Homo sapiens: one gene and its partner. The protein of the gene in region 2 interacts with the protein of the main gene of each other region in a biochemical or structural test. Each region holds a gene or a part of one and is shown on either strand. Other genes may lie near its edges.

The links.
Region 1: the proteins of TLK1 (region 2) and NEK1 form a complex in vitro, tested with the Homo sapiens proteins (one study listed by BioGRID).

The regions. Positions count from the first base shown.
Region 1 is NC_000004.12:169,402,659-169,406,583, forward strand, and holds part of NEK1 (serine/threonine-protein kinase Nek1), read right to left. Parts: intron 1-3,925. UniProt on the Homo sapiens protein: Phosphorylates serines and threonines, but also appears to possess tyrosine kinase activity. Involved in DNA damage checkpoint control and for proper DNA damage repair.
Region 2 is NC_000002.12:171,007,201-171,011,125, reverse strand, and holds part of TLK1 (serine/threonine-protein kinase tousled-like 1), read left to right. Parts: intron 1-3,925. UniProt on the Homo sapiens protein: Rapidly and transiently inhibited by phosphorylation following the generation of DNA double-stranded breaks during S-phase. This is cell cycle checkpoint and ATM-pathway dependent and appears to regulate processes involved in chromatin assembly.

The DNA of each region.
Region 1 (3,925 bases), on a different chromosome or scaffold from region 2:
CCTACTACTCAAATTTTATCCACAAAAAATCACTTTAGAGACATGAAAACTATGAACCAAAATGTTTAAATGACTTGGTCAAGGCCACATAGTCAGTAAATGACAGAGCACTGAAATCTAGTCTTTGACCACTTCTGTAATATCTGAGAAACATACTCAGAAAAATTTTTTTCCTCTTATGATTTGCTTCTTTATCCTAACATGGAATGTAAATGGAAAAGTTTGTAGACTAAAGGAGTTAACTGATGTTTTAGATGTCTGAAGACTTCTAAAAGAGATTATGTACCTAAGCCGGGATTTCATCTATCAGGAAGGCAATGCTTAACAGGACACAAGGGCTAATTAAGGCCTTTCTAAAAGTTTAGACTCCAATCAAATATTTACTGAAGAACTAAAATATAAACACTATTGTGTAAGACTGTCAATATAATTTCCATTAATAGAGTAAATAATCTTTTTATGTAGAAATATCTTTATTTTGTACTTATATGTACAAACGCCTACAATTTGACTTGTAGGAGCTATAGAAAAGCAAAGCATCTAATTAGAATGAGAAAATAGTGTCTAATCTCTTGAATCATCCTACTAGTAGCATTTAACTTAATATATAATTACAAGACTAATTTAGGCTGGGTACAGTGGCTCATGCCTGTAATCCTAGCCCTTTGGGAGGCTGAGACAAGAGGATTGCTTGAGGCCAGGAGTTTGAGACAAGCCTGGGCAACATAGCGAGACCCCTCTAGAAAAAAAATTGCAAAAAACTTAGCTAGGCGTGGTGGCACGAGCCTGTATTCCTAGCTACTAGGGAGTCTGAGGCAGGAGGACTGCTTGAGCCCAGGAGTCCAAGGCTGCTGTGAACTATGATTGCAGCACTGTACTATAGCCAGGGTGACAGAGTGAGACCCTATCTCCCCCAAAAAATTTTATTATTAAAAAAAGATCAACGAAGTATGCACACCTGCTATGTACCATTACTACAATGAGTAAATATTGACCTGTTCATAAAATCATCTAGTGGCTGGCCTAGAGGAATTAGTACCCTCTGCAGATGGTATTCAATTGAGGCAGCTAAGCTTGCCACTGTAAGAAAGTATGAGAAGATTAAGATCTTTTACTAAATGAGCACCAAAAAACTTTAAGGTACTTAAAAAAATTTGGTCTTGAATTCAGTTTTTAGTTGGCTATCTTATAAAATCTTGACTAAAGTTTAGACAAAAAAAAATAATAATAATTTTCCAAAGACAAACATCAAGTGAAATATCCCTATAACAATATGAAATAACGTACTTTAAAAACAACTTGGTTTTCGAATTTTTCAATTAATACTAAAGGCTTCTAACTTAAGTTTTAAAATAAAATTCTGTCATCAATTGTTCATTAAAAGAACACATGCATAACACAAACTTAGCAGCTTGGAAGAAAGAAAAAATAAAAGAACACAAGCCACAAATAAGCTGTAGTTCATTCAGATAAAAATAAATGATTTCATAAAATTTTTGGGAAAAAAATTTTAGTTAGCAGTTTGTCAACAATAAAAATCCTGAATGTTGTTATGTTCTCCAATAGGATTAATAAAAACACAATATTTCAGTGTTTAATGACTACAGTCAAGTAGAAGAAACAAAAGTAAAAAGGTAACTTTTCTTCTAGATTGTAAGGTCATTAGCAAAAATCTACAGAACTCTAGGAAAAATGAAAAAGGCAATCTTTTAAAAATGAAGTTTCACCAGAAACTTAAGAAGCAAGGGCAAGGCTTAAAAAAGAACCAAAAACCAGAAAATAAAATGTGCCAGCGGCATCGATCCTACGTAACTCAATACAGAAGAAAACATTATGAGAGTGATATAATACTTTCAATCAGATCAAAATACAAGTTCTTTCCAAAGGTAAAAGTAAAAAGCAGAAACAAGTTCAAAGAAATTACAAAATAAATTATAAAAATTCTAATATTTTATAACTTTTTATCCAGGTGATTTGAACACACTGTACCTTCTCACCTTACTCTAGGAAACTCTGGTTTTATTACACCAAAAAGTGTGTAACATTTGTCTAAGACAGTTGAGAGGGCTGACCAACACTGAACAAGGTAAAGGAAGGTTCTTTTTGTTTTTTTATGGAAAAAAATTTTTTTTTTAATTTTACTTTAAGTTTTAGGGTACATGTGCACAATCTAAGGGGTTATCACTCCTTACAGCTCTCAGAGGTATTGCTTGTTAAATTTCCCTCCTAGATTCAGGATTCCCCATGAATCACAAAGAAAGCAATTTTGTGAAAACAATCCAATTACATGCAGAAAACATGTGTGCACTGACACATGTGCACACACACACATGAACAAAACTGGTCGACCTGCTAACTCCCCATTGGCATGGCTTTGAAATCATATATGGCAAGAGGTAGATGTGGAGCTTTCTGGTCATTCTCCTGGGAAACTGTAGAGCACAGTCATGAATTGCTTAACAACAGGAAGCATTCTGAGAAATGCATTGTTATAGCCAATTTCATTGTTGTGCTAACATCATAGAATGTGCTTACACAAACCTAGTCAGTATAGCTAACTACATACCTAGGCTACAAAGTAGAGCCTGTTTACTCCTAAGCTACAAACCTGTACAGCATATGACTGTACTCAGTACTGGAAGCAACTGTAACACAATGCTATCTGTCTATTCTAAATATATCTAAACATAGAAAAGGTACAGTGAAAACACTGTATAAAAGATAAAAAATGGTAAACTTTATAGGGTACTTATCATAGGACATTACTATACACTACTATAGACTTATAAACACAGTATATGCTTAGGCTACACTAAATTTATCAATTTATTTTTCTGCAATAATAAATTAACTTGGCCAGTCCCAGTGGCTCACACCTGTAATCCTAGCTATTTGGGAGAGTGAAGTGGAAAGATTGCTTGAGTCCAGGAGTTGGAGGCTGCAGTGAGCTATCATCATGCCAGTGCACTCCAGCTTATTTATTTTTCATTTTTGAGACAGGGTCTCACTCTGTTGCTCAGGCTGGAGTGCAGTGGCATGATCATGGCTCACTGCTGCCTCAAACTCTTGGGCTCAAATGATTTTTCCACCTCAGCCTCCTGAGTAGCTGAGACTACCTACAAGGCATGTGGAAACAAACCTGGCTATTAAAAAAATTTTTTTTGGCTAGGTGTGGTAGCTCATGCCCGTAATCCTAGCACTTTGGGAGCCCAAGGTGGGCAGATCGCTTGAGGTCAGGAGTTTGAGACCAGCCTGACCAACATGCTGAAACCCCATCTCTACCAAAAATACAAAAATTAGCCAGGCGTGGTGGCAAGTAATCTCAGCTACTCAGGAGGCTGAGGAGGAGAATCGCTTGAACTTGGGAGGCAGAGGTCGCCGTGAGCCAAGATCATGCCACTGCACTCCAGCCTGGGTGACAGAGCAAGAGTCCACCTCAAAAGAAAAAATAAATTTTTTTTTGTAGAGATGGTGTCTCACTATGTTGCCCAGGCTGGTCTCACATTCCTCCTGCCTTGGCCTCCCAATGTGGTGGGATTGTAGGTGTGAGCCACTGTGTCCAACCCACACTCCAGCTAGGTGATAGAGTGACACCCTGTCTCTTAAAATAGATAAAAATAATATACAGAAGACATAAAAGCAGAGGTTAATGATTAAAAAAAAGAGCTAGGTAAGTTATCCCCTCTTTTTTACATATAAATTCAGAAACTCTTTTAATGCTGTTTACTAATGACATTATAGCCACTGTGTCCAGCCTGTATTCCAGCTAGGTGACAGAGTGAGACCCTGTCTCTTAAAATAGATAAAAATAATATACAGAAGACATAAAAGCAGAGGTTAATGAGTTAAAAAAAAGAGCTAGGTAAGTTATCCCCTCTTTTTTACATATAAATTCAGAAAATCTTTTAATGCTGTTTACTAATGA
Region 2 (3,925 bases):
AGGCTGAGGTGGGAGTATTGCAGAGTCCAGGAATTCATGGTTGCAATAAGCTATGATTGCACCACTGCACTCTAGTATGGGTGACAGAGCAAGACCCTGTCTCAAAAACAAAAAAAAGAAGTACTTGTCTTTTGTTTATTGATTATATGTCCTCATTATAAAAAAGGGTTTGTTGTGGCTTCTGTTGTCTTATTTCCAGAATCCAAAGACTGTCCTTGCCACCTGCACAGTCCCTGTGATATTTGATACCTAGTCACCATTAACCAGTCCAATACAAAGAGTAACAGCTATTTAAATCAAGATAGGCAGGTAGCCATTTAATACAGTACACTTATAGAAAGATTGTACCCCTTAATTAAAAAATGTCTGAAGTATTAACATGTCCTGAATTTATCCAAATTTCTACCTATGTCAAGTCCGTTTCTCAAATGCATATGTATAAATGTAGCATTTTTACTCCCCATGTTCACTATTTTATGCCTTTCTTTTTTTTTTTTTTTGTACTTTATGTTGTATCTTTTAGCCTAACCTTTAAATATTGGATTCCTAAGGTCCCTTTTATCATTCTGTATTCTCCCTTAAGAAGGTTTTTATCCTCTCTCATTCACTGGGTTATCTATTTGGTGTCACCCCCAGGTAATATCTAGCTCACACTTTCTTCCTGAGTTCAATACCTCAAAGTATGTTTGTATACATGACTTACCTCATGTGGGTGCTTCATAGGTACTGGAAACTCACATTTGAAATAGAAGTTATCTTCCTCTCCTCTAAAATGTCTTTTAACACTGCTTCTGACTTCCCTGACCTCAGTATATAACATTGCCATTCATCTGCCTGGTCCCTCAAGTGAAAAAACACAAAAACCATCGTATGCTCTTCCTTTCCCTTTGTTCCCCTCCCCTCACATATTATAAGCCCCTAGTTCCTGCTATTATTAATGTCATTAAGTTCTCCTAAATTCAGCCATGACCCTTCCCTTCTGTCTCTTAGCTCAAGGCTTCTTCCGGAACCTCATAGCTGATTGTCTTCTTTTGGGCATTGCTTTTCTCAAGTCATTTTGTACACTGCAACTAGAGTGAACTTTTTATAAAAGGCAGCCTGATCATCTGTCCTACTTGAAAGCCCCAGTAGCTTCCCATTTGCTCTTGGGATGAAGTCCTAGTGAAGGGTTATATGCTCATCTTTAGTTCCTCTAAACAGCTTCCCTGACCCTCTGCATCTTCTCTGATAGATTTGGTGTGCCTTTTTATAAGCTCCTTTGTGCTTCATTACGTACTGGCATAGTTGGTTAAAAGCTTTGGTTCTGAAGCCAGACAGCTAGGTTTAAATCCTGACTGCTATTTACTAATTTTATTAATTTGGGCTTCTTATTTAAATCCCTGTCTGACTCATTGGCTCCTTCTGAGAATAATAACAATACCTACATTATAGGGTTGTTGCAGTGATTAACTGAGTTATCACATGTAAATCATATAGAACATAGGTGCTGAGATAAGCTGATAAGATTATTAGAAATCCTGCTTGTTGGCCATGGCTCACACCTGTAATCCTAGCACTTGGTGGGGCCAAGGCAGGCAGATTGCCTGAACTCAGGAGTTCAAGACCAGTCTGGGCAACATGGCGAACCCGTTTCTACTAAAAATACAAGAAAAAAATTAGCTAGGCATGATGGCACATGCCTGTAGTTCCAGCTACTCGGAGGCTGAGGCATGATAATCGCTTGAACCTTGGTGGTGGGAGGTTGCAGTGAGCCAAGATTGTGCTACTGCACTCCACCCTGGGGGACAGAGGGAGACATTTTCTCTCAAAAAAAAAAAAAAAAAAAAAAAAAAAAGGAAAAGAAATCCTGACTGTTGCATGGGACAAAGACTACACCCTTCTCGTTTCTGCTTCTGACTTGGAAAAATTATGGGATTTGAGTTAAGAGAACTTCAGTTCTGGTATCAGTTCAACCATGCACTATTTTTTGTTAACTTAGATAAGCATTACACGTCAGGGTCCTCACCTTCCTCATTCATCAAAAGTGATCTTTGGGCTCTCTTCCAATTCCTGTTTCTCTGATTCTAATAATAGTTTATCCTTAAGCACTTAATGGGTGAAGTAGGCTTACCATAAGGTAGAAAAGATTATCATGATAGTTCAGCTGGGATCTAAAAGTCACTAAAAGTGCAGTTAGCATTAGCGTGGCCTAAAAGTTGTTGAGCTTATGAACTTACCATGAGCCTTCATAACAACCCTCTGCTACTGCCTGGTTGTATTTTAAATAACTATTTTACCCTCATAGGTGAGGACTTTTGTAGAAGAGGCTTACATAGAGATTAGAAAGTGCAGATTGGGGCCCAGTGACTTGAACTTTCTATACTGACCTAAATACTAGTGACATCATTCTCTAAGCCCTTTAAAGCCCTTTCATGATTGCCAGTTCTGTTGGGAAACAACTAGACAAAAAGCAGATTGTAAGTCAAGAAGTAAAGAGTTGTATTTTATACCAGGATGGGAGATGTTGAGTCAGTTGCTGAGTGATTGCCATATTAACCTTATGGAAAGGTATACTTCTACTCACCTGAAATTTTGGGAGGAAGATGTGTTACATATAATTTATTATAATCAGTATACTCTGATAATAACTTTTTATTGCTTGCTTAGTTTTTTCTTCAATTATCCTTTACTATGATTGCCTTGAATTCTTTATAGATTTGTTCCGCCTTGTCCCTTATATAAACTTACTTTATTTTTATTCTTCTCAGTTTCTTTACACTTAACCCTTAATAATAATATGTAATTAGCTAATGTTTCTTGGCCGTACCATGTATTATTCTAAACACCTCATATGTTTTACCCCCATTTAATCCTCTCAATAACCCTAACTTTTGGGGCTCAGAGAGGGTATTAGCACAGAGTCACTCAGCTAATAAGCTAATCTGATTGCAAACAGAATATTCTTAACAACTGTGTGCTATATTATATCTGATCTCATACTTTTATAGTTTTGTACCAAAGTAGTCACTTTACTGCTTATCCCTTCCTGCTTATTTTTAGGTTAAATTGATGGGAGGAAATGGGGACCTTCTTTCTAATAAATACGTAAGCTTTTAAGTGAAAGGGGCACCTTTGTGTGTAAATCACAATGGAACCAAAATTATTAAATGTCTCTTTAATGGTATTCATTGCTTTTTAAAAAAACATAAGTCATGTAAAGCTGTTAAAATACTGATCATTCTGTGTTTTTAATTTAAGAAATAGGCTGGTGATTTGAACAAATCAAGTATAAATTCTTTTTGAGACAACCAGGGAAAATTGAAGACAGGTTAGGTATTAGATGAGATGAAGGAATTATTACTGATGTAGTTAGGTGTGATAATGGTATGTGGTTATTTTTATTTAAATACTGATGTGTTTACTGGGAGAAATAATGTATTTGTTTTAATAATACTCTGGTTGGGAAGGGTGGGATGCAAGGGTACTAGGGAATAGATGAAACAAGAATGGCAACATATTGGTAATTTTTGAAACTGGATGGTAGGGGCATAAGGGCACATTATAGTAGTCTACTTGTGTATATGTTTGAACAGTTTTATAATAACGAGTTTTTTTCAACAGTTGGAAAAATAACTGTTAGGAACTTTTTAATTTTTCTAAAAAGTGAGAAAGAAATAGGGGGTTGCTAGGAAAAGATAGATTTAAAAGGTTTTATCCAACCTACAAAAAAAGTGGTACAGTCATCTGTTTTCCTGGCTGCTTACTACTAGTATAGAGGAATAAGTCCATATTAAAAACAAATAATAGCTTTATTGTTTTATTTTTATTCAGTATATTGGCATTTATAAAATTTAATGTGAAAATTCACATTAAGGTTTTCTCTGATTTATTACCATGGAATTTCTGTCTTCTGATAATAAAAGTGTCATTGAGCTATATATAGTCT